Homo sapiens: one gene and its partners. The protein of the gene in region 2 purifies or fractionates together with the protein of the main gene of each other region. This does not show direct contact. Each region holds a gene or a part of one and is shown on either strand. Other genes may lie near its edges. The genes, in order: FAM76B, ARHGEF15, RDX and ZNF326.

The links.
Region 1: the proteins of ARHGEF15 (region 2) and FAM76B purify together in Homo sapiens (affinity purification with mass spectrometry, with the first as the bait; one large-scale study listed by BioGRID). This does not show direct contact.
Region 3: the proteins of ARHGEF15 (region 2) and RDX purify together in Homo sapiens (affinity purification with mass spectrometry, with the first as the bait; one large-scale study listed by BioGRID). This does not show direct contact.
Region 4: the proteins of ARHGEF15 (region 2) and ZNF326 purify together in Homo sapiens (affinity purification with mass spectrometry, with the first as the bait; one large-scale study listed by BioGRID). This does not show direct contact.

Annotation. Positions count from the first base shown.
Region 1 is NC_000011.10:95,778,287-95,786,265, forward strand, and holds part of FAM76B (protein FAM76B), read right to left. Parts: coding exon 7,833-7,979; intron 4,979-7,832; coding exon 4,779-4,978; intron 1,663-4,778; coding exon of another isoform or gene 1,641-1,662; coding exon 1,593-1,640; intron 1,402-1,592; coding exon 1,321-1,401; intron 850-1,320; coding exon of another isoform or gene 840-849; exon of another isoform or gene 792-839; intron 672-791; coding exon 536-671; intron 1-535. UniProt on the Homo sapiens protein: Negatively regulates the NF-kappa-B-mediated inflammatory pathway by preventing the translocation of HNRNPA2B1 from the nucleus to the cytoplasm.
Region 2 is NC_000017.11:8,304,800-8,313,413, reverse strand, and holds the start of ARHGEF15 (rho guanine nucleotide exchange factor 15), read right to left. Parts: upstream 3,174-8,614; 5' UTR 3,071-3,173; intron 2,593-3,070; exon of another isoform or gene 2,551-2,592; intron 1,424-2,550; 5' UTR 1,375-1,423; coding exon 774-1,374; intron 493-773; coding exon 160-492; intron 1-159. UniProt on the Homo sapiens protein: Specific GEF for RhoA activation. Does not activate RAC1 or CDC42. Regulates vascular smooth muscle contractility. Negatively regulates excitatory synapse development by suppressing the synapse-promoting activity of EPHB2.
Region 3 is NC_000011.10:110,252,509-110,260,487, forward strand, and holds part of RDX (radixin), read right to left. Parts: intron 5,682-7,979; coding exon 5,598-5,681; intron 5,406-5,597; coding exon 5,259-5,405; intron 2,899-5,258; coding exon of another isoform or gene 2,878-2,898; coding exon 2,781-2,877; intron 1,602-2,780; coding exon 1,438-1,601; intron 1-1,437. UniProt on the Homo sapiens protein: Probably plays a crucial role in the binding of the barbed end of actin filaments to the plasma membrane.
Region 4 is NC_000001.11:90,007,155-90,015,133, reverse strand, and holds part of ZNF326 (DBIRD complex subunit ZNF326), read right to left. Parts: intron 7,790-7,979; coding exon 7,384-7,789; intron 5,047-7,383; coding exon 4,848-5,046; intron 2,009-4,847; coding exon 1,897-2,008; intron 1-1,896. UniProt on the Homo sapiens protein: Core component of the DBIRD complex, a multiprotein complex that acts at the interface between core mRNP particles and RNA polymerase II (RNAPII) and integrates transcript elongation with the regulation of alternative splicing: the DBIRD complex affects local transcript elongation rates and alternative splicing of a large set of exons embedded in (A + T)-rich DNA regions.

The DNA of each region.
Region 1 (7,979 bases), on a different chromosome or scaffold from region 2:
CATTTAACTGATGAAGTCCCAATAAGTACACTTACTTCCTACACAATGAGCTTTTAGACATCTATTGCTAATTACTATTACTGACTACTACAGGAAATTCCCATACCATTACTTTTCAGCAGTATTTTGATCTGGATTGATACAAATATATGACTGGATTGATACAAATATATGAATGTTATATCAAAGACTGTTCAAACTACATTCTTAAATCAAAAAAGTTTATGAAATATTCCATTTACATCTCATTTTTAATTAGGTATTAGATCTATTTTTAAATTACATGCTTACTGAAAATTAAAGTTTGGAAATTACTATCCTAATTAAGCCTCAGTTAATTCTTAGAACTAAAAATCTGAAAGACCATTTTTACCCATCTTCATTAGATGGCTTCAGGGGCTTTTGTAATTTGTCTTATAAAAATCACGCACAACAAACATTACCAAATTATTAAAGGAAGTCTAATAAAATTTGCGATTATCAAGCAACAGTCAACACATAACTCTTACCAGGCTTCAATGAACCATGTTCTTACCTTTTTATCTTTTTCTAAAATGGTCTGGTCTCTCTGCTGTAAGAGACGCTTAAGTGACATCACTTCTTCTTTCAATTGACTTATAAGGACAAAATTGTCTGTTCCCCCACTATCTGCTGACTGATTTATAGAGCTACTAAAAAGAAAAAAGTAAAACACAGTTAAATGAAGTAGAAGGAAAATTAGCAGGTGTTCAAATTGCATAAATTAGACAATTCCACAAACATCCTTAAGGCTAATGCAAAAAAATATGTACCTGACAGAAATGGATGCAACTGGCAAATTACCTTACTAATGGCACACATTACATACACCTGCAGAAATATAATTCAGTATTAGCTTTAAGGGGGTCAATACTTCTAGTGTAAAGCAATAGGCAGCCAATTTGTACAGTAACATCAGCAAACTTTTGGCTAATGAACTAAAACAAAGTAACGCTCATAATATTTTTAATCTAAAAACATTTTCTAAGCAGGTCAATTTAAAATATCACAATTAGATTTGTGTTTCACTGAAGAATAAAGATAAAAATAATGTTCTCCATTCAAATTTGTTTCTTCAAAACCCAAATTTATTTCCCAAATAGAACAACATAGTTCAGTGCCACTTTCTTATTGCCAAAATTAAGCTAAAAATTTTAAACTAATTTATGTTTATTCTTCTAGGTGACTCAAGTCAATGTAGAAAATACATGTTTCTATTTTTTTATCTAGTAATAACTGGCATTCAACCATAACTATTCAACTAAGTTGAATTTTCATAACACTAAAAGAATTCATTTTTACCTATCTCCATTAGATGGCTTAGATTCCAATTTGGGCTTTTTCTTTGGAGTTTCATTCTGAATTGTTGCAGAGGATTTATGGCTGAAACCAAACATTAATAAGAATAGTTAGAGTAAAAAGGACAGAGAAACCAAATGATAAGTTATTCATCTTCCCCTAAAATATTACTGAAAATACTGATTTTGGTAAGACTTAAGTAACAAAGTTGAAGGGATATCACATTTATAAATATACATTTCAAAATACTTCAGAAAATACAGCAATGTATTTACCTCTGTTTCCACAGTCCCTGCTCTTCTTCTGGACTTAGATTGCTGATTCTGAAAAATACACAAATGACATCTAATAATGACATTTATTTATTTAATACATCTAAATTTAACATTCTTTCTCAATGGATACAAATTTTATGTTTATAATATTTTCTTCAGAGAAAGGTATATTTAAGTTTTCAGACTAAGCTAATACATATTGAATAAATCACATTCTGATGAAATAAATTTTAATAAAATGACTGCTAACCATCTCAAGTTCTTCAAGAATTCTTTATAATCAGGATCTCCACAGTTCAATTTAATATCATACAAAGGGTGGGTTACACAAGTAGTTTTCGTGCTTGTGTCTAGGTATCACTGTACTTTGGCTGCCCTTACTATTTCAGACACAAAATTTGTATCTTTAAAGTTAAGGCTTTCCTAATAATCTGAAGTAGAGATTCTTCTTTTGGAGTAACTCAAGTTGCTCAGAATAGTATTTCAATTTAAATGGGGAAATATATTGATTTCTTTGATTCTTTCCTAGTTTTCTTAAGAATCCTCTCCAAAGTCCATAGAGCTCTCTTTAGTTAGTATTCTGGAGAAGTTACGCTGAAACTATTGAGAAATTTCATAGTAACAAATTATTTTACTTTTACTCATAATTAATACTGTAATACTCCTTTTCTATTTTACCCTAATACTAATAATCACTTTATAATTCATCATGAATCCTTCATTTTTTTCCTCCTAAACTTGCATATCAGTCAATGCTTCACTAACCCTAGCTTATTCACTCAGCATGTAGAGAGCATCTCCTATGAACCAGATGCCACGTATTTATACGATTTAGAAGATGTTAGAATACCTGAGCTGTGACCTTATGCAAATTACTTAACATCCCCAGCCTTAGTTCCCTCATATGTAATACATACCTTATACTGATATGAGCATTAAATGAGTTATATATGTAAAATCACTTAGTACAGTGCTAGCATATACAAAATAGACATATATATATATACATGTTTACTTGTGTCTAAAATTTACTATTGGTTCAGCTGTAGAAGTTTTTTAAGCAAAAGAAAAAAACAAACCTTAAGACTCAGCTGTAAACAAGTACCAAGTTGGGAAAAAAATGTTAATAGCAATAATTCCATCAAGTGAGTTATTCTTACTTGTGAATGAATGGAAATCCTATTGAGGAATGCAGTTGTCCCTTTTTTTTTTTTCCCACAAATTTCATTATAAGCCTAACAAGCCATACATGAACTAACAGCACTAACCATATCTCAAAGTTAAGAATAATCACATTAATATCACTGACAGAAACACTTGGAATTCCCATCTTATCTTTCTGAGGGTTGTCCATTCCTAGATTCAGACCCACCTTAGTGCCACCTGGCAACCACATCCCCTACCCCTGCCGATCACTATCTATCACAATATGAATGCTCCTCATTTTCATTCTGATCTATTGAACTTAAGATAGGACCCTACAAAGTAACTGTTCATCAAATGGTCAACAGCCATCAAATAGAAAATAGTGTTTGTATTTCATAAGTAACCAGAAGTAAAAAAATTGAAGACTTTCATTTTCAATACTGTTCTCTTTCCCTTTATTTTTGAAACCTGTCATTCTTTCAAAAAATTAAGTTGCTGTCACATACTTTAGTCTTCACAAACATAATCTGATTGTGTCCTTTTACATCATGCTAAGACAAATTTATCTGTAAAGAATAGGGAAAGGAGACATTTTGGGAGTCTTAGAAGTAGGTCTGACATATGCTATTATGGTATATAGTCATTTTGTCATATTTTTTCTTAAAGCAAGAAGCAAAAACAAGGTAGACTTATATTATTTTGCTTCTTGAAATACTCTGATATAAAGATCACAAGGTTTCTTCAAAACAGCCAGAAGAGAAGACACTGCATTGTAGTCTACCACTGCCACATTTAGAAAACACTACAACATGGTAGAATTAAACATCACTAACCTCAACGTAACCTCATAATCTAATAGGTGATTGGATACAGTTTACAACAAATCTTACTAATTAGACAGAACTACATTACATTCTAAAAATACTGCATGTGTTCCAAAATGAGGTGGGCATCAGTTGTTTGTAAATTCTGTTTTAAATAACTATCTGAAACTTTAAAGACTCACAGAAAAATTTAAGAACAAACAATAAATTATTCTGAAAATGGGCATGCCATATGTCCGTTTTTTCCATTTTAATTTGTGTTTGTCAGTTTAATTTGTATTTTCATGTTCTTGATTTTTCCGTGAAGACTAAAATTGCATTTTAAAAAATCTTTATACCACACACATCAAGGGTTAAGGTACTACTACTACTACATAACTCCCCCCACAGGTCACTTTAAAAATCAAGTACAGCTGACCCTTGAACAACCCAGGTTTGAAATGTATGGGACCACCTATAGGAGAATTTTTTTTTCCCAACCAAATACGGATCAAAAATACAGTATTTGGAGGATGTGAAACCTGCATATATAGAAGGCCAACTTTTCCTATAGGCAGGTTCCACAGGGTCAATTGCAGAACTGGAGTATATGCAAATTTTGGTCTATGAGGGGGTTCTAGAACCAATCCCTCAAGCATACTGAGGGAAAACTACAGTTGTCTCTATTTAAGTAGAGTTCCTAAATATATGTTTGAAAAAAACACAAAGTATCATTAGTTAAAAATATTGCTCATATTTTGGGGACCACAAAGATCAGAAATGCTTCTATCATAGTAACAAATTATAGTATTAAAATATGTTCTCCAAACCCAGTCATTGGTTTGTTTCGATTTGTTTTTACTAAAACAAATTGACAACTAAAATATAATTTTTCAAATAAAACCTTAACAATTATTTAAACAAAAAAAGAATACTGAGGCTTTTGATAAGTTATTTAAGTGTTAATTAACTGACGTACTTGTATTTTGACTTTACATGGTTATAATTTTATAGATTTTCCTAAATATCTGTATTATGGTAAACAGCTCAACATATTTCATGTATATAACATTCTACACTGAATAAAATGGAGACACAGCCTTAGACACTCAAGATGCTTACTGTGTACAATGGAAACTAGACTAGCACATAGTCAATATTTGCAAGAAGTAAACATCAATAAATGGCATTAAAATGCAAGGAAGAGTTTTAGAAAATATGATTTCAAAGTACTTACTTGTGATGGCTACTGCTGTGACGATGGTGATGGTGATGATGGTGGTGATGATGTTTTGGATGATGCTGGTCTTTCTCAGTAAGAGATGAAGAAGATGAATTTGAATGTGAAGATCCCAGGCTCTTCCTTTGTTCTTTCGTCTTCTGTAAAACTCTTTTGTACGATAAAGTACAGAGCCAGCATAATAACTTTCCATCAACCTTTTAAGAAAATGTGTTAAATTAAATGTACCCATATAAACTGGCTGTAAACGAAACCAGGTAAGATAAACCACTCAACTTCCACCTATATTCCACACGTAACATGCACAAATGCATGTATGCACATATTCACGGATTTTCTGCAAAACAGAAATAAAACTGGACTTTTCTGAAACTTGAGAAAATACTTGTTAGGAGAATTATAAAACTGATGAGGATGACATCAGTTTTGAAGCATTTTTAATTTGAAGAAAAAGAAAATGTTACCTTTTTTCTTATTCCAGGAGAATAAGCATAAACTGACTGATATACTTCCAAGAAATATAGCCTGAATTCTTATATCGCTGTGTCATTACTAATAATTTTTCACTACAGTAAGTACTGTAAATTTACAGAAAAACAGAAGCATCTAAATGACACACAGAGTTGCTTCTCATTATTCTTGCATTTCCTATTCGTGTATTTGCCTACCTAGTAAAATGTATCTGTAACCCAAAAATCAAGACTTGTAGCACTTTTGTGGCCACTGCACACATACACAAGAGTGGTGAAAAATCTGTGCCACCCAATAGCACACATTCTCAGCTGAGGTGGAACAAGGTGATGCTCTGCCTCATTTATTTCACCTCTCAGACAAGTATCCTTTTCACAGTCTGTTTAGTGCCATGTTTTTCAAGTTTTTATAGTCCCAAAGAGTACTGCCAAAGTGCTGTATAGTGTTCCTAGGCTCAAGAAGGTTGTAATGTGAAATGGCAAAGACATGGAATCAACCTAAATGCCCATCGTTAGTAGACTGGATAAAGAAAACATGGTACGTATATACCATGGAATACTATGCAGCTATAGACAAGAACAAGATCATGTCCCTTCCAGGAATATGGATGGAGCTGGAGGCCATTAACCTTAGCAAACTGACAAAAGAACAGAAAACCAAATCCTGCATGTTCTTACTTATAAGCAGGAACTAAAGGATGAAAACACATGGACACACTGAGGGGAACAACACACATTAGGGCCTATCAGATGGTGGAGGGTAGAAGAGGGAAAGAATCAGGAAAAATAACTAATAGGTATTAGGGTTAATACCTGGGTGATGAAATAATCTGTGCAACAAACCTCCATGACACAAGTTTACCTATATAATAAACGTGCACATGTACCCCTGAACTTAAAAAAAGGAAAGCTACGAAGGCTGTGATGTGTCTTAAAGAGAAAATATGTGTGTTACATAAGTTATGTTCAGGCACTCTTAGCACTGTTGGCCATGAGTGCAATTAAATTAATCGACAGTGTGTGTGTGTATATATACACACACACACACACACACAATTTTTTTTTTTTTTTTGAGACGGAGTCTCTGTCGCCCAGGCTGGAGTGCAGTGGCGCAATCTTGGCTCACTGCAAGCTCCGCCTCCCGGGTTCACGCCATTCTCCTGCCTCAGCCTCCTGAGTAGCTGGGACTATAGGTGCCTGCCACCATGCCCAGCTAATTTTTTGTATTTTTAGTAGAAACGGGGTTTCACCGTGTTAGCCAGGATGGTCTCGATCTCCTAACCTTATGATCCACCCACCTCAGCCTCCCAAAGTGCTGGGATTACAAGCATGAGCCACCATGCCTGGCCAATCGACAGTATACATTAAATGAGATATCTTCAAACAGGAACACAAACAAAATAAGGTTATATATTGATCAACTGACCAACATGTTATTACTGGAAATGTGAACTTAATCCTATATTTCTCTTGGGCAATGCTTCAATACAGTACTCCCCTATCTACAGTTTTAGTTACCCATAGTCAACCTTAGTCTAAAAATATTACATACAATACACTATTCTAAGGGATAAAGACCACATTCATATAACTGTAACTAGGGTATGCTAATATAATTGTTCTATTTTGTTATTATTTTTATTAGTCTCCTGTTATACCTAATTTAAAAACTACACTTTATCATAGGCACGTATGTACAGGAGAAAACACAGTAAGGTTCGTTACTATCCCCAGTTTCAGGCATCCACTGGTCTTAGAAGGTATCTCCCATGGATAAGGTGGGTACTACCGTATTCACTGTTTTGTGGGAACTTTAAAGAACTACCACAAATAATGAGAATCAATCGTACCTGTGTCAAAGAAGAGACTTTCCAGAAGTACTGACTAAACCTCTAAAAATAAAACCAAGTTTTTATCTTCTGTTTGTTCACATGTATTCCATCCATAGTATTCCATGATGTTTATGTACCAGACATGCTGGAGGGACATGTCTTATAATGGGATATGTACATTGCTGTGGGGAGACCTGAGGAAGCCCCTCAAAGAGGTAGTCATTCTCCAAATCAACTAAAATTGATAGGCAACAGGAGGCCTGTGTGAATGCTGATCGGCAAAGGAATTATCACATGAACACAAATACTTATTACATTAAGTCACTGCAGGTAGACAAAAACAAACAACAGTTTCAAATATGAGCCTTTATCAAAAGGCACAAGAGTAACTGAATTTTATGTGCCAATGTGCCATCAGGTATTTTTTTCACACCAGTGATGTCAAGTAACTAGCAAAAGGGTAAAGTAAAAGGAGATATTTAAGCAATTAGTTAAATCTCCTGAACCAAATGTGGGATAGCCAACTAGTACAGAATAGCCACCATAGAATATTTTTTAAAGTATAGTACATGAATCTATGTATCATGCAAACAAAGAGAAAACTCACTATTCCTGCACTTTCATCTAACTACTTGCTTTCATGGACCTAAAGAATAGATCCAGTCTCAGTAGTGTATTAATTATAATTTCCAACTTGTTTGGCATTTTATTTAATTTCCAGAAGATGTCATAACATAAATAAAGCATACCTTTCTTCTTCCTTCCTCCTTCCGATCAAAAGCACATTGCTGTTTGCACTGTTCACAGGTCTGAGGTGGTCCATACTTTTTTTCTGAATTTGTGCAACGCTGACACTTGGTACCAATAAATGCTGCAATTATGTTACAGTACTGACA
Region 2 (8,614 bases):
CTATAAAAACTGCAACTCTCTTCAGCACCAGAGCAGCAGCTGGTGGGGAAGCAAAGAGCCCAGTGCCTGTTGGGGATTGTAGTTTGCTGGGCTTTAGTTCCCCCCTGCCTCTCTCCTGTCCCCTCACAGCCCAGAGGTCCACTCCCCCAGGCCCTGCACCTGTTTGGATTCCATCTTCAGAAAGCAGATCAAGATCTGGCTGTGGGGGGTCCCCGAAAATGGTGGCATCCTGCCTGACACGAGTTGGTTTGGGAGGCTTGAGGAGTGGCAGGAGTTTGCGCTCAGCAGTGGAGCGGTAGGATGTGAGGACAACGGCAGGGTGACCGATGCTTGGAGGGTGGGGGCGGGAGCGAGAGGTCCGCAGCGGGGAGGCCCGACGGGGGACCCTGGGGACCTCCTCATAGCCCCCCACAGGCACCCATCTGAGCTCCAGGCCAGGCCGGGTGGTGTGGCAGACACAGGGGCAGCAGGGAGGGCAGGCCAGGCCAGCATCTGTGGGAGACAGGTAGCCTAAGGAGAAAGCCCTTGGGGCCCAGCTCCACCCCCGCCCAGACCATCTCCATCTTTAACCTGCCCAGCAACTGCAATATCAAGGTCCAGGCATCTATAGATCTCCTCCACCCTGACTCCCTTCAAATCCCGACATACAGAAACCAGATATCCCAAACATTAACTCCATTTTTGAAAAGGTAGCCCCTGAAAGTTGTTAGCACTGAAAACGGAGAAGATGGGTGGATTGAGGTCACCCAGCGCCCCCCACCCGCCACACTCACCTGGAGCACCGTTCTCCTGGGACCCACTCCCGGTGAGGGGAGCTTCTCTCTCCCCATTCACATCTGCTCTCGCTTGGAGACCTGGCTCCGGGGCATCTGCATCCTGAGCCCGGCCTTCAGCACCCCCTTCAAACCTGCCAGCCAGCCTCCGCACAGTGCCAGGAGCTGAGGCAGAGCCATTCTGAGCCAGGACTCCAGCCATGGGGAGCAGAGGCGTGCAGGGTGACCCAGACGGCTTGGGTGGGGGGACTGGAGACCGGGGAGCAGGTTCTGGGGAGGCGGAGCGCCGGGACACTGGACTAGGTGTGGGGGTGCTGGAAGGTGAGTCTGGGGAAGTCTGGGAGTCGAGGCTGGCTCTAGAAGCTGAGGGGGGCAAAAGAGCAGGGGGCTTGAGGGATGCAGCTGGGGGCTCCCAGAAGATGGGGGTGCACATTGGGGTTGGTGCATCATTGGAGTTTCGGGGTAGTTCTTGTGGAGAGGAGCCATTGTGGGGAGGCCCTGGGGACTGGGCAGCCCTGGAACGAGAAGGAGGGCGGGGGCGGATGATCCGAGGGGGCTTCTGCGTGGGGGGTGTTGCTGCAGGAAGGGACTGGGCTGACATCTTCCTCTGTGCTCTTCAAAGGAGTGAGGTGCTCTGCTGGAGTCATCCCCTGAGGAGGAGGGAGGGAAAGAGAAAGACCCTTAGTGCCCCACAGGGAGGGTAAACTGGGGCCACTGGAAGGCAGGATTTTGAAGTCAGGAGGGAAGGCTGGTGTGGGGGTTCCAGAGAATCCATAAAACTCAATACGGGATACAGCCGCTCCGTGTCTGCCCACTGAACCGTGTGTCCGTGGAGTGTGTTGTGGAGGTTTGTGTGTGGTTTGTGTAGGGGGTGGCATGGTGTGTTGTGAGTGTGCGAGTTCTGTGCTTGCCGGGTGGGTGTGCAGGGGGAGAGTGGAGCATACGGTGTGTGGTGTGTGGCCCTTTAGGAAGTTCTCGGTGTGAGTGTCTGAGATAGCGGTGCCAGGGTGGGTGTGCCATGTGTGTTCTGCGCTGTCTGGGTCTGGGTGCCGTGGGCGCGCCTGTCCGCCGGGCCTGGGCTGCGAGGCGTGCATCACTGTTTCCCTGCTCCACTGGCCCTCCGCCCCCCATTTCCCAGTTCCTCTCTCCGGACTCTCCCTTTCCGGATTATTTTTAGTCTCCTTTTCCTGCCATCAAGATTCTTGGAGCCTCTGACCCCCGGAGATGAGGAGGTCCTGGCGAGGTCTCTCCTGTCCTGCGTCTGATCATCCCCGCCTGCCCTAGGGTCTGGTCACAGAGAGAGGCCCAGCACAGCCATGGGTCTTGCCAAGAGGCCTGGGGAGGTGGCTGGGAGAATGAACCGAAGGACAGGACCAGTCGGGCCAGGGCGCTGCGGCCTGGGTTTCTCTTCCTCCCTCGAGGAAGGAGGCTACAATCCCAAGAAGGCTGCAGGGTCAGGGCTGGGAAGCAGAGGAACCCCCAAACTCCCTTCAGGGGTCAGCAGGAGAGTCAGACCCCTCCAGGCCTCGGACTGGCTCCTTGAGAAATGATGAGGGGGGAACAAGGGGGTTGTAGATGATGGGTCTTGCAGCTCAGTGGCCTCTGTGTTCTGGCAGAAAGTCATTTAGCAAAGTGACCCACACGGTAGTCTTGACCACTGGCCAACTCCTCCCCAGCCCCTGCCCCTCAGGGATCCCACCCCCTCTCGGGTACCTGCATTTACTTCCTTCCCTACCCCACCCTTAGGAACCCAGGTACTCGGGCCCCAAGCACTCACCCTTGAATCCCCTCCACTCTCAGTCACCTCCCAGGGCTGAGTGAGTAGGGGCAGGAAACAGGAATCAGATCCGCCTCCCAACCGGACACCCCCCCCTCACGAACCACACCACTCTCCACATGCGCACATCACACAGGGCCCCAGGAGACAGAGGTATCCAGGGTCTCAGAGGTTAAAGGGGTCTGGGGAAAAGCTGAAATTCAGGCTTGGAAAGTGTGTGCGCAGGTTCTACCTGCACAGCTGTGTGGATCGGGGCTCATAGGGGTGAGGTGGACAGGGGTAGGGATGAGGACAAGACGGCAATGGCACAGAGCCTGGCTGAGCAGCATGGGTGTCTGGATGCCTCTGTCTCAGCTAAGGGATGCTGCGTGCGTCCCTCCACGGCGAGTCTCACCATCTTTCCCCGACTTGCACCACCACCTGTCTCCTGAGCCGGGTGTGAGCCAACGCCTATTTCACACCCAGGGACCCTCCCGCAGGCTTCCCTCCCTAACTCTGCAGTAGGTCCCCATGAATTTACCTTTATCTTTTTGGAACCAGTTGCTATTTTCAGCCTGTCCTGTCTGCCCCTTGGAGCGAGGAATGCAGGGCTGAGGTTTCCAAGTGTGTGTTCCTGTGATTCTGGGGTGGGAACTCAGGGCCCAGATTGAGATCTCTGCGGAGGAAGCCAGTTCCTCAGCCCCACCCAGCCATTGTGTCTGGCGTGTGTGTGTGTGTGTGTGTGTGTGTGTGTGTGTGTGTGTGTGTTAGAGGAGAGAGAAAAGGGGAGGGCCAGGAGGTAGGACTGAAGAGAGAAGTGTGGACTTGGGGTCTGTCTCCTCCAGGGAGGTATAACATTTGCAGGGGCCCAGGCGTGGTTGCTCATCCTTATAATCCCAGCACTCCAGCACTTTGGGAGGGCAAGGTGGGAGGACCAGCCTCGGCAACATAGTGTGACCCTGTCTCTACAAAAGATTTTTAAAAAATTAGCCGTGGACAGGCCGGGCGAGGTGGCTCACATCTGTAATCCCAGCACTTAGGGGGGCCGAGGCAGGCGGATCACCTGAGGTCAGGAGTTCGAGACCAGCCTGACTAACATAGTGAAACCCCGTTTCTATTAAAAATACAAAAAATTAGCCAAGCATGGTGGCACACGCCTGTAATCCCAGCTAGTCGGGAGGCTGAGGCAGGAGAATTGCTTGAACCCAGGAGGCAGAGGTTGCAGTGAGCCGAGATCGCGCCATTGCACTTCAGCTTGGCCAACAAGAGCGAAATTCCATCTCAAAAGAAAAAAAAAAGCCATAATGGCACACATCTGTGGTCCCAGCTACTCAGGAGGCTGAGGTGGGAAGATTACTTGAGCCCAGGAGTTGGACACTACAGTGAGCCGTGATCGCACCACTGCCCTCCAGCCTGGGCAACAGAGCAATATGCTGTCTGAAAACAATAAAAAATGTGCAGAGGTCGGGCGCAGTGGCTCATGCCTGTAATCCCAGCACTTTGGGAGGCCGAGGCAGGAGGATCACCTGAGGTCAGGAGTTTGAGACCAGCCTGGCCAACATGGTGAAACCCTGTCTCTACTAAAAATACAAAAAAATTAGCCGGGTGTGGTGGCGCACGCCTGTACTACCACCTACTCGGGAGGGTGAAGCAGGAGAATCACTTGAACCCAGGAGGTGGAGGTTGCAATGAGCCAAGATCCTGCCACTGCACTCCAGCCTAGGCAACAGAGCAAGACTCCATCTCAAAAAAAATAAAAATAAAAAATGTCCCAGGAGCCGTGGCTCACGCCTATAATCCTAGCAGATTGGGAGGCCAAGGAGGGTGGATCATCTGAGGCCAGAAGTTTGAGACCAGCCTGGCCAACATGGTGAAACCCCATCTCTACTAAAAAAAAAAAATACAAAAATTAGCTGGGCATGGTGGCGGGCACCTGTAATCCCAGCTGCTCTGGAGGCTGAGGAGAGAGAATCACTTGAACCCAGGAGGTGGCAGTTGCAGTGAGCTGAGATCGTGCCATTGCACTCCAGCCTGGGCAACAAGAGTGAAACTCCATCTCAAAAAAAAAAAAAAAATTAGCCGGGCATGGTGGCACTCGCCTGTAATCCCAGCTACTCAGGAGTCTGAGGCACAAGAATCACTTGAGCCCAGGAGGCGGAGGTTGCAGTGAGCTGAGATCGTGCCATTGCACTCCAGCCTGGGCAACAAGAGTGAAACTCCATCTCAAAAAAAAAAAAAAAATTAGCCAGGCATGGTGGCACTCCCCTGTAATCCCAGAAGAGACTTAATTTTCCAAACAATAAGCCCCAATAAAAACAGCATGAAGCCAATTAAATTTTTTCCAAAAAAAAATTTTTTTTTTGAGACGGAGTCTTGCTCTGTTGCCTAGGCTGGAGTGCAGTGGTGCGATCTCTGCTCACTGCAACCTCCGCCTCCTAGGTTCAAGTGATTCTTCTACCTCAGTCTCCCGAATAGCTGGGATTACAGGCATCTGCCACCATGCCCGGCTAATTTTTTGTATTTTTTAGTAGAGGCAGGGTTTCCCCATGTTGGCCAGGCTGGTCTCGAACTCCTGACCTCGTGATATGCCCGACTCGGCCTCCCAAAGTGCTGGGATTACAGGCGTGAGCCACCACACCTGGCCCCAAAAATTTTATAAATAGTCTATAACATTTTAATCTTGACCATAAGATGTAACTTCCATAACCTTTGTATAACCTTTATAACCTTTATTAAGGAGTCAGTTAATGCTCCAAGAAAACCTTGTGAATCTGACACAGGGGCCCATATGCTGGTCTTGCATCAGTGTGTCTTTGACATTAATGGTTAATTTATAGAGAAACTGAATTTATTTTATTTCTCAAAATCAACCCTTACCATCTCACATGCCCACCTCTTCTGCAATAGTCCCTGGGCCTTGAGGAGTTTAACAGCTTTAATTTGTGGCCGTGTGTCTCGGCAATACAGTTATTTTGATTGGCATCTTCTACTGGGCCTGAAGATGAGGCTTTAATTGATGTTAGTTTTTAAGATTTAGCAGAATTGGTGTCCTTTTTAGACCCAAGAATCAAAGCCCTGTAACTCAGTGTCACAAGGACTTTAAAAGCACATACAGAAAAATACATGGATGTAATAAACTTAATTTTAAAAAATTGTTTTTGGCCTGGCATGGTGGCTCACACCTGTAATCCCAACACTTTTGGAGGCCGAGGTGGGTGGATCACCTGAAGTCAGGGGTTCAAAACCAGCCTGGCCAATATGGTGAAACCCCATCTCTGCTAAAAATACAAAAATTAGCTGGGCGTGGTGGCAGGCGCCTGTAATCCCAGCTACTTTGGAGGCTGAGGCAGGAGAATTGCTTGAACCCGGGAGGCGGAGGTTGCAGTGGGCCGAGATCGGGCCACTGCACTCCAGCCTAGGTGACAGAGATTCCATCTCAAAAAAAAAAATGAAAAGGAAAAAGAAAAAAAGCAAGAGTAGCCTCTGTTGCAATAACTATTTTAGTCAATAAATCAGGTAACACAATACAAAAGTAGGCAGTTTAGCCAGGCAAGGTGGGCAGATCACCGAGGTCAGGAGTTCGAGACCAGCCTGGCCAACAGGGTGAAAATCTGATTCTACTAAAAATACAAAATATTAGCCGCGCATGGTGGTGCATGCCTATAATCCCTGCTACTCAGGAGGCTGAGGCAGAAGAATCACTTGAACCCGGGAGGCAGAGGTTGCAGTGAGCCAGGATCACACCACTGCACACCAGCCTGGGCACGACAGAGTGAGACTCCATCTCAAAAAAAAAAAAAATTTATTTTGCCAAGGTTGAGAGCACACACCTGTGACACAGCTTCAGGAGATCTTGATGACATGTGTCCAAGGTGGTTAGGGCACAGCTTGGTTGGTTTTATACATTTTAGGGAGACATAAGACCTCAATCGATATAAGTAAGACGTACATTGGTTTAGTCTGGAAAGGCGGGACAACTCAAGCACGGAGAGGGCTTCCAGGTCACAGGTAGGTGAGAGACAAACTGTTGCATTCTTTTCAGTTTCTGATTAGCCTTTCCAAAGGAGGCAATCAGATATGCTTTTTTTTTTTTTTTGACAAAGTCTCACTCTGTCACCCAGGCTGGAGTGCAGTGGTGTGATCTTGGCTCACTGCAACCTCCGCCTCCCGGGTTCAAGTGATTCTCCTGCCTCAGCCTCCCGAGTAGCTGGGACTATAGGTGCCCACGACCACGCCCAGCTAATTTTTGTATTTTTAGTAGAGACGGGGTTTCACCATGTTGACCAGGATGGTTTCGATCTCCTGACCTCGTGATCTGCCCGCCTCGGCCTCCCAAAGTGATGGGATTACAGGCGTGAGCCACTGCGCCCCGGCTCCAGATATGCATTTATCTCAGTGAGCAGAGGGATGACTTTGAGTAGAATGGGAGGCAGTTTGCCCTAAGCAGTTCCCAGCTTGACTTTTTCTTTAGCTTAGTGATTTGGGGGCCCCAAGATTCATTTTCCTTTCACACTGTATATCCCAAAGTTCTGGAAGAGGATCAGGCACATAATAGGTGCTCAATAGTTGATGAATTGAACCAAATTGAATTGAATCCTTCCCACAGTTCACTACTCCTCTTTTTTTTTTCTTTTTTTTTTTTCTGAGACGAAGTCTGTGTTGCCCAGGCTGGAATGCAGTGGCAGGATTTCGGCTCACTGCAACCTCTGCCTCTTGGGTTCAAGCAATTGTCTTACCTCAACCTTCTAAGCAGCTAGGATTACAGGCATGCGCCACCACGTCCGGCTAATTTTTGTACTTTTAGTAGAGATAGAGTTTCACCACGTTGGCCAGGTTGGTCTTGAACTCCTGACCTCAAGTGATCTGCCTGCCTCGGCCTCCCAAAGTACTGGGATTACAGACATGAGCCACCGTGCCCAGCCTTTTATTTTTTTATTTTTTGATACTCTTTCTGTTGCCCAGGCTGGAGTGCAGTGGCATGATCTTGATTCACTACAACCTCCACCTCCCGGGTTCAAGCAATTCTCCTGCCTTAGCCTCCCGAGTAGCTGGGATTACCGGCGTGTGCCACTGTGTCCGGCTAATTTTTGCTATTATTTTTAGTAGAGATGGAGTTTCACCATGTTGGCCAGGCTGGTCTCGAACTTCTGACCTCAGATGATCCGCCCACCTCAGCCTCCCAAAGTGCTGGGATTACAGGCGTGAGCCACCGCGCCTGGCCTGTATTTCTTAAATGTATTTGAATGTATTTGATTGAGGCCAGGCGCGGTGGCTCAAGCTTGTAATCCCAACTCTTTGGGAGGCCGAGGCGGGCCGATCAGCTGAGGCCAGGAGTTCGAGACCAGCCTGGCCAACATGGTGAAACCCCATCTCTACTAAAAATACAAAAATAAGCCAGGCGTGGTGGCGAGCGCCTGTAATCCCAGCTATTGTACTTGGGAGGCTGAGGCAGGAGAATCGTTTGAACCTGGGAGGCAGACGTTGCAGTGAGCCGAGATTGTGCCACTGCACTCCAGCCTGGGTGACAGAGTGAGACTTGGTCTCAAAAAAAAAAAAGTATTTGATAGAAGTCTCATGTCTCCCTAAAATGTATAAAAGCAAGCTGCACCCCAACTACATTGGGCACATGTTCTCAGGATCTCCTGAGGGCTGAGTCACAGGCCATGGTCACTCATATTTGGCTCAGAATAAATCTCTTCAAATATTTTACAGAGTTTGACTCTTTTTGTCAATATCACCATCTATTTTATTTGTGTCTTATCTCATTACAAAAAGAAACTGAGCTCCGAAAATCATATTATGCAGTAAACATGAGACTATTTGTGCATGCACACGTTATTTATTATAAAATACTTTTGCAAAGACACTGAAGGTTTTTGACGTAATAATTCATTCTTCTACCACCCTTACAGAGCAAAAGTTTTCTATTTTTTCATATTCCAAATGTGCCATCATAGTTTCAAGTCTGTCTTCTGCCTTGTTCTCTTAGCATTGCTTTATAACCAATTTTCATGTCGCTACGTGGTCTTTGCAGCTATAACGTTTCCTGGAATATAATGTTGCATCAAATAGATTTCATCTTCCT
Region 3 (7,979 bases), on a different chromosome or scaffold from region 2:
TTCCTCATTTATCTCATGCTAGAAAACCTTTAAGAGACAGTGAAATCTTTAAGACGATTTAAAAAAATTAAGTGGAAACTAAAAGAAGTCTTCCCTTTGACAGAGGGAAATGCAAGGCTATGTGTATAAGAATGTACTGTATAGAAAGTAAAGCCCAATAAAGAGTATTTTTAAAAAGCATTTAAGATTAGAACCACAATGTAATGCTACAGCACATGAGCACAATAAAAAAGGACATAGCCCATCAAAGTAACAATCCAACTCATTACTCTTTTTTTTATTTTTATTTTTAAGAGAAAGGGTTTTACTACACTGCATGTTGCCTGTTGCCCTGATTGTCTTCAAACTCCTGTACTCAAGCAATCCTCCTGCCTCAGCCTCCCAAGTAGCTGAGACTACAGGCACATGCCACCATCCTCAGCTCACCAACTCAGTATCTTTAATGATGGGATTAGTAATTACTGACAAGCTTCAAACCCATATAAAAAATGTTTTGTTATGTGGTTAACTTCTCTAAGGAAGATAATTTGAGTTAATATGACAAAATAGGTAAAAATCAATAAAATCTCTTACACAGAACAGTTGTTGAATAAGAAAAAAAATCATTCAATATAAAACCTAAAACTATAGTAGCAAAATGGTATCTAGCAGATGGCTTCCTTCTAGATACAAAGTACCTTATATCCAATATTTAAAATACATATGTTTAGGGCTCTTCAAATTTTTTTTAAGGACTTACTCTATTTCTTAGACTATCACGTTGTTCCATAAAGATTTATTCAATAAAGGTTAACTTTAGTTTGGTCTCTAAATTTTTTCAAGTAAAGCACAAAGTTGAAATTAATCTAAAACCAGATTTGGAAATTAATGTCACTGGACCCAGTAATCTGATTCCAGGGTTGATATAAATTTTATTCACTACCATTCAATTTTAAAAATTATCAATTTAATATATTTAACAGTTTCTTTTTTAAGTCTAAGAGAAACAGAGTTAAAAAGATTAGGGTCTTTGGCAGGGAGTACTGATGTTACCCTACTTGGCACAGTGACGTTTCAGTTGTGTTCTACAATGTCACTGACATTGTTTCAAAGTTAAATATTCAGCACATTCTTACCCTGAAAAAATTAAGAAATATAAGTCACAAGCAAAACAATTTTGAAAGTTTCAAACTACTATATCTAAAACAATGTCTATCAGTGAAAAGCAAGAAATGAGTCACAAAAAGCTATTTTCTTCGAGATATGTGTCAAAGATTTCTAACTTGAAAATTATACATACTCGTTTTAAAGGACAGAGTGATAATACTGTCTTTGAATTTTAATATAATGAAAATATTAATAAATACAAATTTAAGGTACATTTAAAAAACTGAGCAGTCTTAAATTTTAGATAGCCTACTCCTATCAATTAAAAGTGAAAGGTCATAAACCCCATACCTTTCCAACTGCTTCTGATGTTTCTCCTCCCTAGCCTGAGCCTTCATCTGTTGTACTTCAATAGTATCAGGCTTCCTTCTTCGCATGTATAGTTCATGGTTTCCCATACATAAGGCCAAAATCCGCTTATTGATTCTCAGACGAGGTGCATAAAACACAAAATCCTAAACATAAAGTATTCTGAATTTAAAATCTTCCTCAAGGATACTGTCTCTCATAACAATCTGTACTAAATTTTAACATGAGGTATGAATTTTAATGTCATATTACATATAGTTTAGAAATAAGAAATCATACAATTTCATAACTCCCAGTGAGCATGACATACTTTCACATAACTGGTTCCTCACCTTTTCATATCCAACCAGTTTTGTAAAGAGGCTAATATTCTTATCCTTGCAATACATTAAATGTCATTTATTCCTTTTTGTTCTCGAAAGTAACTATGAGCACCTGTTCCTTATACACCATTTGCCATTAATGTCAAAATTGGTTCTTCGTTCATGGCTGTAGAGTTTTTTTTAACCTAGAATTGTTCTTTTTTTTTTTTGAGACGGAGTCTTGCTGTCATCCAGGCTGGAGTGCAGTGGTGCCATCTCAGTGCACTCCAACCTCTGCCTCCCGGGTTCAAGAAATTCTCATGTCTCAGCCTCCCTAGTAGCTGGGATTACAGGCATGCACCACCACATCTGACTAATATTTGTATTTTCAGTAGAGATGAAGTTTCACCACGTTGGCCAGGCTGGTCTTGAACTCCTCATCTCAGGTGATCTGCTCCTCTCGAGCCTCCCAAAGTGCTGGGATTATGGTCCTGAACCATTGCACCCAGCCTGTTCTTCTTACTTTTACCTTTTCAGTAACTAACAGGGTTAGGATACTAGAGTATACTTGACATTAGAGGAACTTTAAAAATCTATTTAAATAAAAAGATTTCTTAAGTTCAAGGCTTCAAGTTACAAAAATACAAAGTTCATAAAGCAAAACTGTATAAACGAAGTTAATTTAGAATAGGGCTACCTCTACTACATTCTAGCCACCAATGAAGAAACACTTTAAAATTGCTTCTTAGGAATGGTGTTTTCATTAGCCTCCTAATAAATATTATCTATTTATAACTGAATCTCAAATAAAATAAAATTCTAATATTTACATCTTACTTTAAAAAATTAAATCTTTGGATTTTTATTAACATATTATTTCATCACTGGGAAAGCTGACCTATGGAAAGAGAATGGTCCTCAGAAGCAATTTAATAAATGAACACTGTTATTCTTCAAGTGATATCATGGGAAACTAGCAGATATTAAACAGTTAATACACAAAATATTAAAGAAATTACTTACAGGTGCCTTTTTGTCGATTGGCTTTATAACAAATTTTTTGTCATTAAATGAAATATTTCTGATTTCACTCCAGGGAAAACCAATTTTAGGTGTTAACCTTAAAAAATGAAAGCATCTCCTTAATTAAAGGCAGGAAACAATGAATAAAATTCCTGTTTAGGACCTAAACTGACTGAATGACCAATCTTAAGAGTTCCAGATTTTCAAAATGTATTAACTTATTCATAACTACAGTTGACCTTATCTTTTAAGGGGAAAACTGATAAATCATATAAAACAAACAACTGTCCAAAGATTTCATAAATGTGTCATGAACCTTAAAAGCAGTGTATTTTCCTAAAATTATCTAAAAAAACTACCTGGTGACCCAAGTGTAGAACTGAGCCTCCTGGGGTTTGAACTAGCTGTTCAGTTTTTATTGTTTGGATTCAAGCTACAACTACAGTTTAAATATGTGTAAGAAGTGGGAAGAAAAAAAAAGGCCTTTATAACTTCTCATGTGAATTACGGGCAAGTTACTGCAAATAAAAAAACAGTACTTCCTTCCTGTGTTTAATTTGAAAATGTCTGGATATTCACGAATATACTAAAAATACTTAATTTTCAGTATATTTTGAAAGAATCTTATGGTATATGAATTATATCTCAAAAATTTTAAACACTCACATACATAAATATTTGGATAAATGATAGAGATGGAATTCAAACTCTTGAGACTATACACAGCAGTTGACTCCGTTTTACCACCCTACACACAAAGATATAGGGAATCATATTGGAATAAGTGATTTTGTTTCTGCCTTTTCATGTATTTTACTGTTTCAGACTACCTATCAAATGCATCACTATTGTCCTATTGTCCTAATAACTAAGACTGAGAAATGATTTTGACACCTATACTGGCCAGAAGACATCTTTTAGCCAGGCTTCTGACAACACAGCATGAATTTTTACCTATTTATATTCCTTTTAGTTCTCAAGCAGAGTAGGTACTGCAGCACAGCAGAGTCTTTTCTACATAAAACATTCTTTACTCAATAAGCATATTAGAGGACCCTCTAATGGCCCCTGATATAAGTCAAAGTAACATGCTTAAAACGGAGACTGCAGGAATGCAACATAGTATTTTAGAGAACACTATGCTACGTTTATATGCTACTTTGAAAAATTCTAAAGCAATTGCCTCATATAATTCTCATAACACTCTTGTGAGGTAAGCCTGGAAGCTAATACAATAACTTTTTTAACATTTAAAAAAATTGCTCCAATATGTGCCAGAACCACCACCACCAAAAAAATTAAGAAGCCAGGCACAGTGGCTCACGCCTGTAATCTCAGCACTGGAGAAAGCAGAGGCGCAAGAATTGCTAGAGGCCAGGAGTTCAAGACCAGCCTGGGCAACATAGCAAGATCCCATTCTCTAAAACAAAAGAAAAAGATTCAGTTTACAAAAATTAGTCTTGAAGTCATTTTTGCTTTTCAAAAATTTCTCTTCTAAATGATATAACCTTCTAACTTGCTTTGTAATAAAAACATGAGAAGATATTAGGGTAAAAATAGTAAAATGCTCTTGTTTGGAATCACATATGCTTTGAAATTAGTATTTTATTAGATATCTGTAGTAATAAAAATTAAAATTCTGGAGCCAACCTAGAATAAAGAATAATGCCTTAGGAAAAGGCATTAATTACTGGCATAGACTTGCATGCTTATGTGGTATGGTAAATAAATTAAAGTCTAAGACAATTGAGTTATTAATCCTGAAAAGTAAGAGTCTGATGTATTTTATATTGCATGTGTATGTGTATAATATACCGTCTCTATATAGTATTTACCCATGTATTTGTATAGTACATATACATGTATATGTAAATATACATATATTATACATATAATAAAATATTGATGAATTATATATGTATAATAAAAAACTATTTGGTCAATTTCAAGATATAATTACAGTGTTCAATATGTGTAATACAGGGATATTCTATTGTATTAATGTCCAAACATATTTAAAACAATTCCTATATATAAATGTTCAAAAAAATCCTCTAAGATGTGATAGACATATTTATTAAATCCATTCTCTCATTGCTCCTGATTTCTTATGTATGTTCAATTTCAATCTATTTGTCAAGCATAATAGCATTTTAAAGAATTATTTCTCACCTATCGAGGGAGCAAATTTTAATTAAGTTACTAGACATAACTCACAAGAGCTAAAAGCAGCACAATTCAAATAAAAGTCAATCATCTCATTTGATAAATACACTGAAAAGTAGAACTCTGAAACTGCAAGGTGATAAGAAAATGGAGGTAAAATATCTACAAGTCTATGTGTCATTAATTCATCTTTTAGTTTGAAAATAGTAAGGGTAATCAAGACAAGAAACTACTTTGAAAAACAGGACATAAGATTAACGTCATTTAGACCACTGAACAATGACTAGTTCACTATGCAACTAATTTACTTACTTGTCGTCATGCTCATAAATATTCAGACCCAAAGCATCAACACCTAGCCACAATTCAGTTCCTTTTTTATTTTTTATTTCAAAATAGTTGACTCCATACATTTCTAGATCTTGTGCAATCTTCAGGTATTCCATCATAGAATCCTCCCTGTTGAAATAAAACTAAATGTAATATATTTAAGTAGGAGCATATCAAACTAAAGTTGCAAAATACCTGGAATTAAAAATTAGTACTTTACATAAGTCAAACAATCTTTTGGAAATAATGTAATAATAAATGTTACGACATGAAAATACTTTGAAGGAAAAAAGAAAACATAGAAAATAGCTACCCAAATACCTTAACATTCCTCTATGTTCTTCATGCCAGTTCTGTATTCTTTCTTCCCACTGTTCTTTTGTTAGTTTGTGTTGTTCCAATACACTAAGAGGACCAAAAAAAAAAAAAAATTATAATGACTTTAAGATTCAAAAGCATACACTTTAAAAGTAAAGAATCCTTTCAGTAACTTGACTGTGGTAGTTGTCAGACAATTAATACACATGATGAAATTGCATAGAACTAAATTACATACACACAGAAATGAGTGCAGGTAAAACTGATGTAATCTGAATAAGGTGGCTAGATTGTACCAATGTCAATATCTTGTTTGTAATATTGTACTGTAGTTACACAAGATGTTACCATCAGGGAATGCTGGGAGAAGGATACCAGGGATCTCTTTTTTTTACAACTGCATAATAATCAGTAATTATCTCAAAGTTAAGTGTCTAGGATCCTTAAATTCCTTGAAATAATACTTGCTCCATAAAGTGATTACAAAGATAGCTTATAGGAACCCAAACAGTTCAAAGGAATAAAACATTAGATAAAAAAATGGCTCATTGTTAATAGATAAAGACCAGACTGAAAACCAGAATTCTTGGGCCCTAATTCTTCCTTTATGTATTTACTTTTTTGCTACTAATTTTGTTGTTTTAGGTAGGTAATACTTTCAATTAAAAAGTAGAGTGAAAAGTCATACTCCAGTCCAATACCCCCCAAATAACTTGTTTTTGTATCCTTCCAGTGTTCTTAATTCAAATGTGAGCAAATACATTCTTTTTTTTTTTTTTTTTTTTTTGAGATGGAGTCTCGCTCTGTTGCCCAGGCTGGAGTGCAGTGGCACAATCTCGGTTCACTGCAACCTCTGCTTCCTGGGTTCAAGTGATTCTCCTGTCTCAACCTCCCAAGTAGCTGGGATTATAGGTGTGTGCCACGATGCTCTCGGCCTCCCGCGTAGCTGGGATTACAGGCGTGCGCCATAATGCCTGGCTAATTTTTCTTTTTTGTGTGTTTTTTTGGTATTTTTAGTAGAGACGGGGTTTCGCCATGTTGGCCAGGTTGGTCTTGAACTCCTGACCTCAAGTGATCCACCTGCCTCGACCTCCCAAAGTGCTGGGATTACAGGCGTGAGCTACCACGCCCAGCCAAATACAAACATTATATTCTACTACTACTATTTTAACACCAAATCAGCAAAGTCAACATGATTATAAGTTACCTACTATGCACACTACAGTTTGTGACTTCTATTCTCTTTGGCTCATATGATAATTATTCACCTTTATTTACCAGATCCTACTTTACTGACAGCAGAAGCTGTGGTGTTAAAATATTACTGTTTTACTATATAAAAAATCTTGCATGAAACCCAAGGATTTCTTGGCAGCATAAAGGAATGATAAAATCTCCCCCTGGATAAGTTACCTACTACTTAGAGTAAATTCCTTAAAGGGGTCTCAGACATACTGTTATGTTCTTATTATACTCTGCTCCTTTCTCTAGGCATCTTTTCCAAGCTCTTGCTTTTGGGGAGAAGAGTTTCATCTTCCTTCTGAGAGAGCTTAGGTTTCCACAGTTTCTTGTCTTTCTTGCTGTCTGGCCTCTGGGCTCACAGAGAGGCATGCAATCAGCCTTGGAGACATAACCCAGTGCAGTCAATTGCTTACCATAATTATATGCCCAATGCCAGTACTAAAGAGGGCCTCGAAAATTTGTAGAGTGAATAAATGAATTAATCAATTTTTCCCAACCCCTATTTTTTTTTCTTTTTCAGAGACAACTTTCTTTTATGGACTGTCCATTATACACTAACCTCAATTTCCATACCTGACATCCACTGCCCCCAGTCTACCATAATCTGGCTCAAACACCCAATACTCTATGGTAACTGTTCTTCTTTTTTTTTTTTTCTTTAGACAGAGTTTCGCTCTTGTTGCCTAGGCTGGAGTGCAATGGCATGATCTCGGCTCACTGCAAACTCCACCTCCCGGGTTCAAGCGATTCTCCTGCCTGAGCCTCTCCAGTAGCTAGGATTACAGGCATGCACCACCACGCCCGGCTAATTTTGTATTTTTAGTAGAGACGGGGTTTCTCCATGTTGGTCAGCCTGGTCTTGAACTCCCAGCCTCAGGTGATCCGCCCACCTCGGCCTCCCAAAGTGCTGGGATTACAGGTGTGAGCCACCACACCCGGCTGGAAACTGCTCTTCTAAGGTCACTACCAAGCTCCTTATTCCAACAGATACTTTAGTTCTCCTCATATTTGACCTCTTGGTACCATTTGGCAGTGCTGACCATTCTCTTCATCAAAGTATTCTTTTACCTTGGCTTCCATGATATAATACTCTTCTGGTATTATTCTTGTTTTCTGAGATGGAGTCTCGCTCTGTCGCCCAGG
Region 4 (7,979 bases), on a different chromosome or scaffold from region 2:
AATAACTTAGACTACTTTAAATAAATTATATCCTAAAATGATAATTTATGAGTTAACATTCTTTTGGTTATATCATCAGATTTATATTTAGAGTTACAGAGAAAATAGCTAAATGAAAGTTCAATTCTTTCATTTTCTCTATATCACAATTTTATATATTATATTAACATGAACATAATCCATATCTAAAATTTTTCATGAGAAAAGTACTCATAGGGCAATTAAATTTAAAAAATTGCATCTTATAATGTAAAATGATTTTTACACTCCAAGACGCTGATAATTTAAAGTCATTTCTACACCAAAATATTAACTATGCCTGTTACTTCTACCAAAAGAAGGAATCACAAGAGATAATGAATGGGACAGAGAACTCACAAGGACTAAAAATAGCAGTAGTTCTTGAAACTAGAACTACTCTTCTTTTTATGGATTGTTTTGTTTTGTTTAGAGATGAGGTCTTGCCACGTTGCCCAGGCTGGCCTCAAAATTCTGGGCTCAAGGCTTTAAGAAAAATTTAGACATTTTTAAAAAACTGCTAAATTGCTAATAGTTATAATATACTGTCACCAACAAATTTTAAGCGTCCTTTGACCATTCCTTAATTAGCAAATCAAATTTCTCCTTAGTAATAAAATGGCATACTATTATTTAAATTTTTAGTTTAATGAAATTACTGTTAAGTTTAAACAATTTCCTTAAAATTATTACTAGCTGTTTTTTGTTTCCTCATCATATTAAACAGCTTAGTTTTCTTACTTTTTAAAATAATTTGGGTGATGTTTTAATCTAACTTGGACATTAATCATTTCTCATGTTTATATTTTCCAAGTCTGTTTGCACTCCTTTCAAATTTTAAGTTTTTATTTAGCCAAATCTGCTCATAATTTCCTTTGTAATTTATTCTATAACTTTTAAGCCTGGGAAAAAAATCTCCTTGCAGAACATTTTGTTTTTCTGTAATTTCATTTTTTTTTTACTACATTCATTCCAGGTGTCATATGAGGAGGCTCTAAACTGATTTTTGTTGTTATTTCATTGTTCAACCAATTCCCCTCTTTTTTTTTTTGAGACAGAGTCTCGCTCTGTTGCCCAGGCTGGAGTGCAGTGGCTCAATCTCATCTCACTGCAAGCTCCGACTCCCGGGTTCACGCCATCGTCCCGCCTCAGCCTCCCGAGTAGCTGGGACTACAGGCACCCACCACACCTGGCTAATTTTTTTTTGTATTTTTTTAGTAGAGACGGGGTTTCACCGTGTTAGCCAGGATGGTCTTGATCTCCTGACCTCGTGATCTGCCCGCCTCGGCCTCCCAAAGTGCTGGGATTACAGGCATGAGCCACTGTGCCTAGCCCAATTCCCCTCTTATTTCTAATATCCTCTTTATTAAATATTACATTCTTCCTTACAGTCTGTTCACAGGCTAATCTGGTATAATAATTAGCTTTGTGTATTACCACATATTTTTAACTATTATAGCTTTTTAATGATTGATTATCTATAAAAGCCAGTACCTACTCATTTACTCTTCTTCAGAATTTCCTTTGGGATCTGGATTGGAAAGAACTTACATATTTGTAATATTTAATTCCTGCCCATGAAAATCACTATGACTCCATACAGTCAAATCTCAATGACAAGTGTTTCTTTTTAAGAATACTGTTATTTCTGAATATTTGATATCTTTTGGATTGCCAATATGAATAGAATGCCTTTTTTCTTATGTTTTCTAAGTAGTGATTACATATAAATATCAAAAACCAAAAGCATTCCTCTGTATCTTTGAACAAGTCTTTTCATTTGAATCTTAAGAACTTTTTAATATTACAATTGATGTGTTGGCTTTTTCTAGGAAATCATTTTTTAATGAACCTAATTTTCTGACTCTAAGTACAAACCTGTATCCATCTCCGTATTTCTCACTGTTTTTTTCTCTTCTGCGCCTTTGTTTCTCTCGCCGAGCCTCAATTCGCCGCTTTTCTTCCTCTTCATTTTTAGGATCAGTTTTTGCTAGGATATTACACAAAAAAGTAAAAGCTAAAATTCATTTTTCCATTCTCTCTTTCCAATCATCAGTTCGTAAAGTACATACTTATGAGGTATACTTAGTGATTGTAATCTAAAATTGAACTCACCAAAAAAATCGGAGTTTGAGACTATCCAGTATTTCTGAAACTTCACTAAATGAACTTCATTCATTTGAATACCATCATCATGAATTCTGTCATATCTGCTTGTCATCTATGTGATTATTTGCTACATATTTTTCTTTAAATGTGCTCATTTGTCCTATCCTTATTCTAAGCAATAATATCCTTATCACCTAAAATCATCTTGGGCATCACATACTTTGGGAAAAACACTAAAGTAACCTGACCGAGCATGAAAATGGAAGTCCAGTAAACACTGCAGAGCCCTGGATGCAAGAACTCATGTTCATATTGTAGGAGCTCTCAGAAAGTTTCTTAAAATTTGTAACCTCCAAAATAAAAGCAAATTTGTTCTCTTTTTTAAAAAATATTCTCTATTGTGATAAAATACACAAAACATAAGATTTACTAGTTTAACCATTTTAAAATGTGCAATTCAATGGCATTAAGTACATTCACAAAGTTACGCAACCATCTCCACTATCTAGTTACAGAACTGTTCATCATCCCATAAAGCAGTCACTCCCCATTTCAACCCTACCCTAAGGCCCTGGTAACCACTAATCTGCTTTCTGATCTACGGATTTGCCTATTCTAAGTATTTCATATACCTAGAATCATCCTGTCTGTTGCCTTTTTGGTCTGACTTTTATTTAGCATGTTTTCACAGTTCACCCATGTTGTACCATGTATTAGTAAGTACTTCCTTTTTTATGGTTTAATAATATTCCATTGTATGAATAACCCACATTTTTTAAACCATTCTTCTGTTGATGTATATTTCAATTGTTTCTACCTTTTGGCAATTATGAATAATGCTACTATAAACATTCATATATAAATTTTTGTTTGGACCAGGCACAGTGGCTCATGCCTGTAATCTTAGCACTTTGGAAGGCTGAGGCGGATGGATCACTTGAGGCCAGGGGTTCAAGACAGCCTGGCCAACATGGCGAAACCATCTCTACTCAAGATACAACAATTAGCTGGGCGTGGTGGTGCACATCTGTAGTCCCAGCTACTCAGGAGGCTGAGGAACGAGAATCGCTTGAACCCAGGGGCAGAGGTTGCAGTGAGCCAAGACTGCACCACTGCACTCCAGCCTGGGCAACAGAGTAAGATCCTGTCTCAAAAATAAAAATAAATAAATAAATAAATTTTTGTTGGAATACTACTTTAAATTCTTTGGAATAGAAGAATACCTAGAAGTGGAATTGCTGGATCATATGGACAGTCTATGTTTAATTGTTTCAGGAAGCACCAATCTGCTTCCCACAGTGGCTTCACTGCTTTACATTCCCATCAGTAATGTGTGAGGGTTTCAATTTCTCCATATCCTTGTCAACATTTGTTATTTTCCTTTTTTTATTATGACCATCCAAGTGGGTATGGAGTGGTAACTCACTGTGAGCAGGTTCTTTCTTATAATACATTTAACTTTATACTTAAAAAAAAAAAAAAAAAAAAAACTTAACTATTTGCCCTTAAATTTTTCCTTTTATGCACTGCTTATCCTTTTGGATGGCCTTTGAAAAATCTACTTATTTATATATTACCTCAAATAAGTAATTTAATCTTCCTTTCATATGCTAAAACTATGACATGTTGTACTTCTAGCCAAGTGACAGAATAGGGTTCCTTTCCTACTAATTTTCTATAAAGTCACATAGTCTATACTATAGCATAGCAAGACCTTGTATTGAGGAAAATTCAGCAATCATCTTTTTAAATGCCCATTTTACACCTGACAGAGAAGGCATAATTTAAAGAATTTTAGTTTCATTCTTAGCTACACAACACTTTTCTCAAGTTTTGTTATATAAAAAGGGGGTATGGGGGAGGGATACATATATATCTGCTTTAAGGGCAAATCAGTTTCTTTATCAAACTTTTGCAATATTTAACCATACGTGCAAAATATATCTTTGAAATAGGTCCCAAGAGAATCAACTGAATTTTCTATTATAGTAATGTCTAATAAAATGTCAAATTTGATACATAACAGTCTATCAATTGACACACTGTTAAAGGTATCCCCACAACACATACTCTGCTTAGTATCAGGTTTCCAGAACTCCAGAAATTCCAGAATATTGTTTCTTATTAAACAATAAGGCCTGATGAGAAAGTAATTTAAGTACACCTTTTAAACCTTTTTCAAATTTTATATTATAGAAAATATATTTTGAGGAAAGAATCTAACATTGCAATTTCAGTTTTTTCAAATATTACATATTAAAATGTCTATAATGTCATAATTAGGGAAAAAGTTATTTTAAAATAAAAGGGAAAAATGAATACAAAGCAAATTTCTGTTACAATCATATGGAGGTTTAAGAACAGGACTTCTAGAGCATGACTTGCTCTGGAATAAATACTGGCATTACCATTCACTGGTTGTTTGACTTAGGCAGCAAATTATTTATCTATTCTGTGCCTGTTTTCTCAGCTGTAGAGGGTTTGATACACAACCACAAGGATTCAGGAAAAAGGAATGGACCAGGTTATGTACATTTTAAAAGTATCTTTGGGTATTCATGACCAATTATTAACTGCAATAGGGGATTTACAGATCTAACTTCTACAATCATAATTGTTATGTAGTTTCTGTATATAAACATGAAAAAATTACCAAAAAGTATGGAATTTTAAAAAATAAAAAGTATCCTGAATCATAGCAATTATGTTTTCTTACTTACTGGGTGATTTGCTGAGGCTTATCTTCTCCATAGGTTTTGCTAGTTTGGGTTTCTTGATAAAGGTTCCACTGGGCTTATTAAATGGCTGCATCATTTTTCTCTTTATTCCTCTTGCAGCAGCAACTGTCACATTGGTGGATTTGTTTTGATAGTCAACAACAATTCCGGGTCTATGAATGCTTCCAAAATCACCCATATGCTGTAAATTTGTGAAATCAATAAATATTAGCATATTGTCCAAGAAAAAATATGAATTCATATAAAATTTTCATGTTAACTATCTACTAATTTTCACCTGAAAATTCCCTGGAATGTAACTAAATTTTACATGTCCATTCTGAAAAAACACATTGAAAAACTCTGTAAATTATTACATAAACTCAAATCCATTGAATTAGTATTTTTATTTCCAGTAGAACAAATAATGAATATTTGCTAACTATGTTTTTACTTTTACATTTCAAAATTACTTGAGATTATAGACAACATATGTGCCTGTCCAAATGTTACCACTTGTACAACTCTCTGACAACTCCTCTTCAGAGTTCCTAATTGATGTTTTCCCATGAAAAGACCCTAAAAGAAATCTTTATTTTACTAAAACTAAGATACACAAAGAAGACCATATTTGTAGTTTGAAGTAAAAAAGATCCAGAAATCATTTAGTATTCTCCCTGTTGAAAAAGGGAATGAGAAGGCGAGATGGAACATTAGTATGAAATAGGAGAGTTAAAGCATAACCATGCATCAACTTCCAAGACACACTTCAGATAAAGAATTGCATCTGACGTTCCATTCACATTCTTACCTAGAGAAACATTTTCTGACCCAGAAGCCCAAGAAACAAAAGTTTACAGATGAAGAGTCATGCAACCAAACGACTCTTTGTGTCCCTTCCTCTTCTCTTGTCATTATCCAAATCTACTACACCAAGAGGCCACATGTCCACAGAAATTTATTCTGCTAATCTTACTTTTAGAAGATAAAGATGGAGGAGTAATCTGAAGAGAAGGACCCAAGGGGAATTGTACAAGTGAAGATTTAAAATGTAGGTCCTATTGGCTCATCTACTTCACTAACAGGAGGAAAGAAAGAAAAGTCCATTCAGACTAGAATGGTAAATACAAAGTACAGGAATACTTGTTTATTATGAAAACGAAATTTACTTTTGAAGCCTCATTAAGAAAACACACTTTGTCTAAAATAATATACAGCATGGAAAATATTAAGTGTTTTCCAAATTTTCAAACTAGAATGGATTTTCAATTCAAAACCCAAAGCCTATCATCCCAACTATTTTCAATTAACCTATGATCATGAAGTATAGTGGAACTGTAATGTATCAGTTGCTTACATTTGTATACTATGCTCAGGAATGCCTATCTAACCTAGTTGTGTTTCCAGGTAATTTAAAAAGTCACAACAGGAAAATCTTCCTTAATTACGCATTAAAGGTGCAATGCATTTTTACATAAGTAAAGAGTAACTGTTAAAAATGCAAAATTTCTACACAAGTATAACAAGCTACACTGACATATCAAAAGCTAATAACCAGTCAAAAACGTGTACCCTACTACCTTTTTTACTAGAAATACTTTCCTCTGCAAATAAAATATTAAGAGCAGCTGACTTAAAAGGATTCTTACATTATAACAAAAATACAATACTCTTTAAATGATCAAACTATATAATAACCCCACAATCTGCATACACTTACTAGGTAAATTTTCATGTCAATCAAGTGACCTAAGAACATAAAGCATAATGTTTACACTATGTACCCTAAACTTAAACAACTGTGGACTAGTATATTTACTCATTTAAGCAATAATTTACAAAATATTACTTCCTAAGAAGAAACCATAAACATATCTGTACAGGTGGAAATTATTTCTCAAGAGTAAAACTAGTAACACGAGGGAAAATAAAACAACCAGCAACTGGACATATTGTAAGCGTGAGTTAGCAAAATTACACTGACCACAAATCATTGTACAATCTATTATACACATCAACTTCTTCACCACATAAACATGGCTAAGCTATCCTGATCTATCATCAACTTTTAGTCTCCTGTGTTTAATGTGAAACATGGAGCTTTGAAGAAATTCTACTTGCTAGAGTTTAGCCACAAAGTATAAACATTTTATCATACATTGCACCTTTAACCTACTCAAAAACTCAAAAAGGGTTCAGTGACCTTTCACAATAATCCACAAACTATTCCACCAGCAAAACTGCTAGTGTTTACAAGGAAAATGCAACTCCTTTTAACCCCTTTTAGACCAAACCAGTAGCCTCACCTTTTTAATAAAGGGAGATTTGGCACAACTTTATGATCATCTCAAACTGCCACTTATTTTCTGAGGTGCTAGAAAAACTTTTACAGTCAACCTAAAAATTATGTTTATGACTCAGCTTTTGCTTCAAAATACACCGGGATGAACAGTGTTTATTCTAGTTGAAAACGATGGTCTTGAAAGGGTTTAAAAGAGTGACTAGTGAAAAGAATCTGAAAAGATTCTGTTGTACTTACTCCTCGGCCTCGGCCTCTGCCTGTTGATGGTCCTCCAAAAGCATCATAGTTTCTGCTTCCAAACGTACTTTCAGGATAAGCAGGCGTTCCTCTCCCCCGAGAGCCTACAGGTGCAGGCTTCATATGGGGTGAAGAAAAACTGCTGTAGGAAGAGTAATTCTCTCTTCCTCTGTCCTCCATAAACCCAGGCCTCAATTTTGAACGGGAGTAAGGTGCTTCCCAGCTAGACCCGCCCTGGTTTCTACCTCCGAAAGAGTCAAGGCTATTCCGGTAGGAGCTCTCAAATCGACCACCATAACTACCTCCGAAGCGGCTTTGTTCGGGTTCATTAAAACCATAGCCAGATCTGTACAGATCTCGCCCACCCAGAGAAGACCTGGAGTCGTAAGACTCATAAGGTCCAAACCTGGAAAAGTTGCACAGTGAGGGAAAAAACAAAAGTAAGCTTACTAATGTTAGACAATTCAAAAGACAAATTATCAGATGACATTTATCAACTAAAATTCATTTATACCATACTGGTTTGCACAGTTCTACTTTTGTTCACATTTGATTAGGGCTGGGCAGTTCAACGTGAGACCAGATAGAAAGCTATC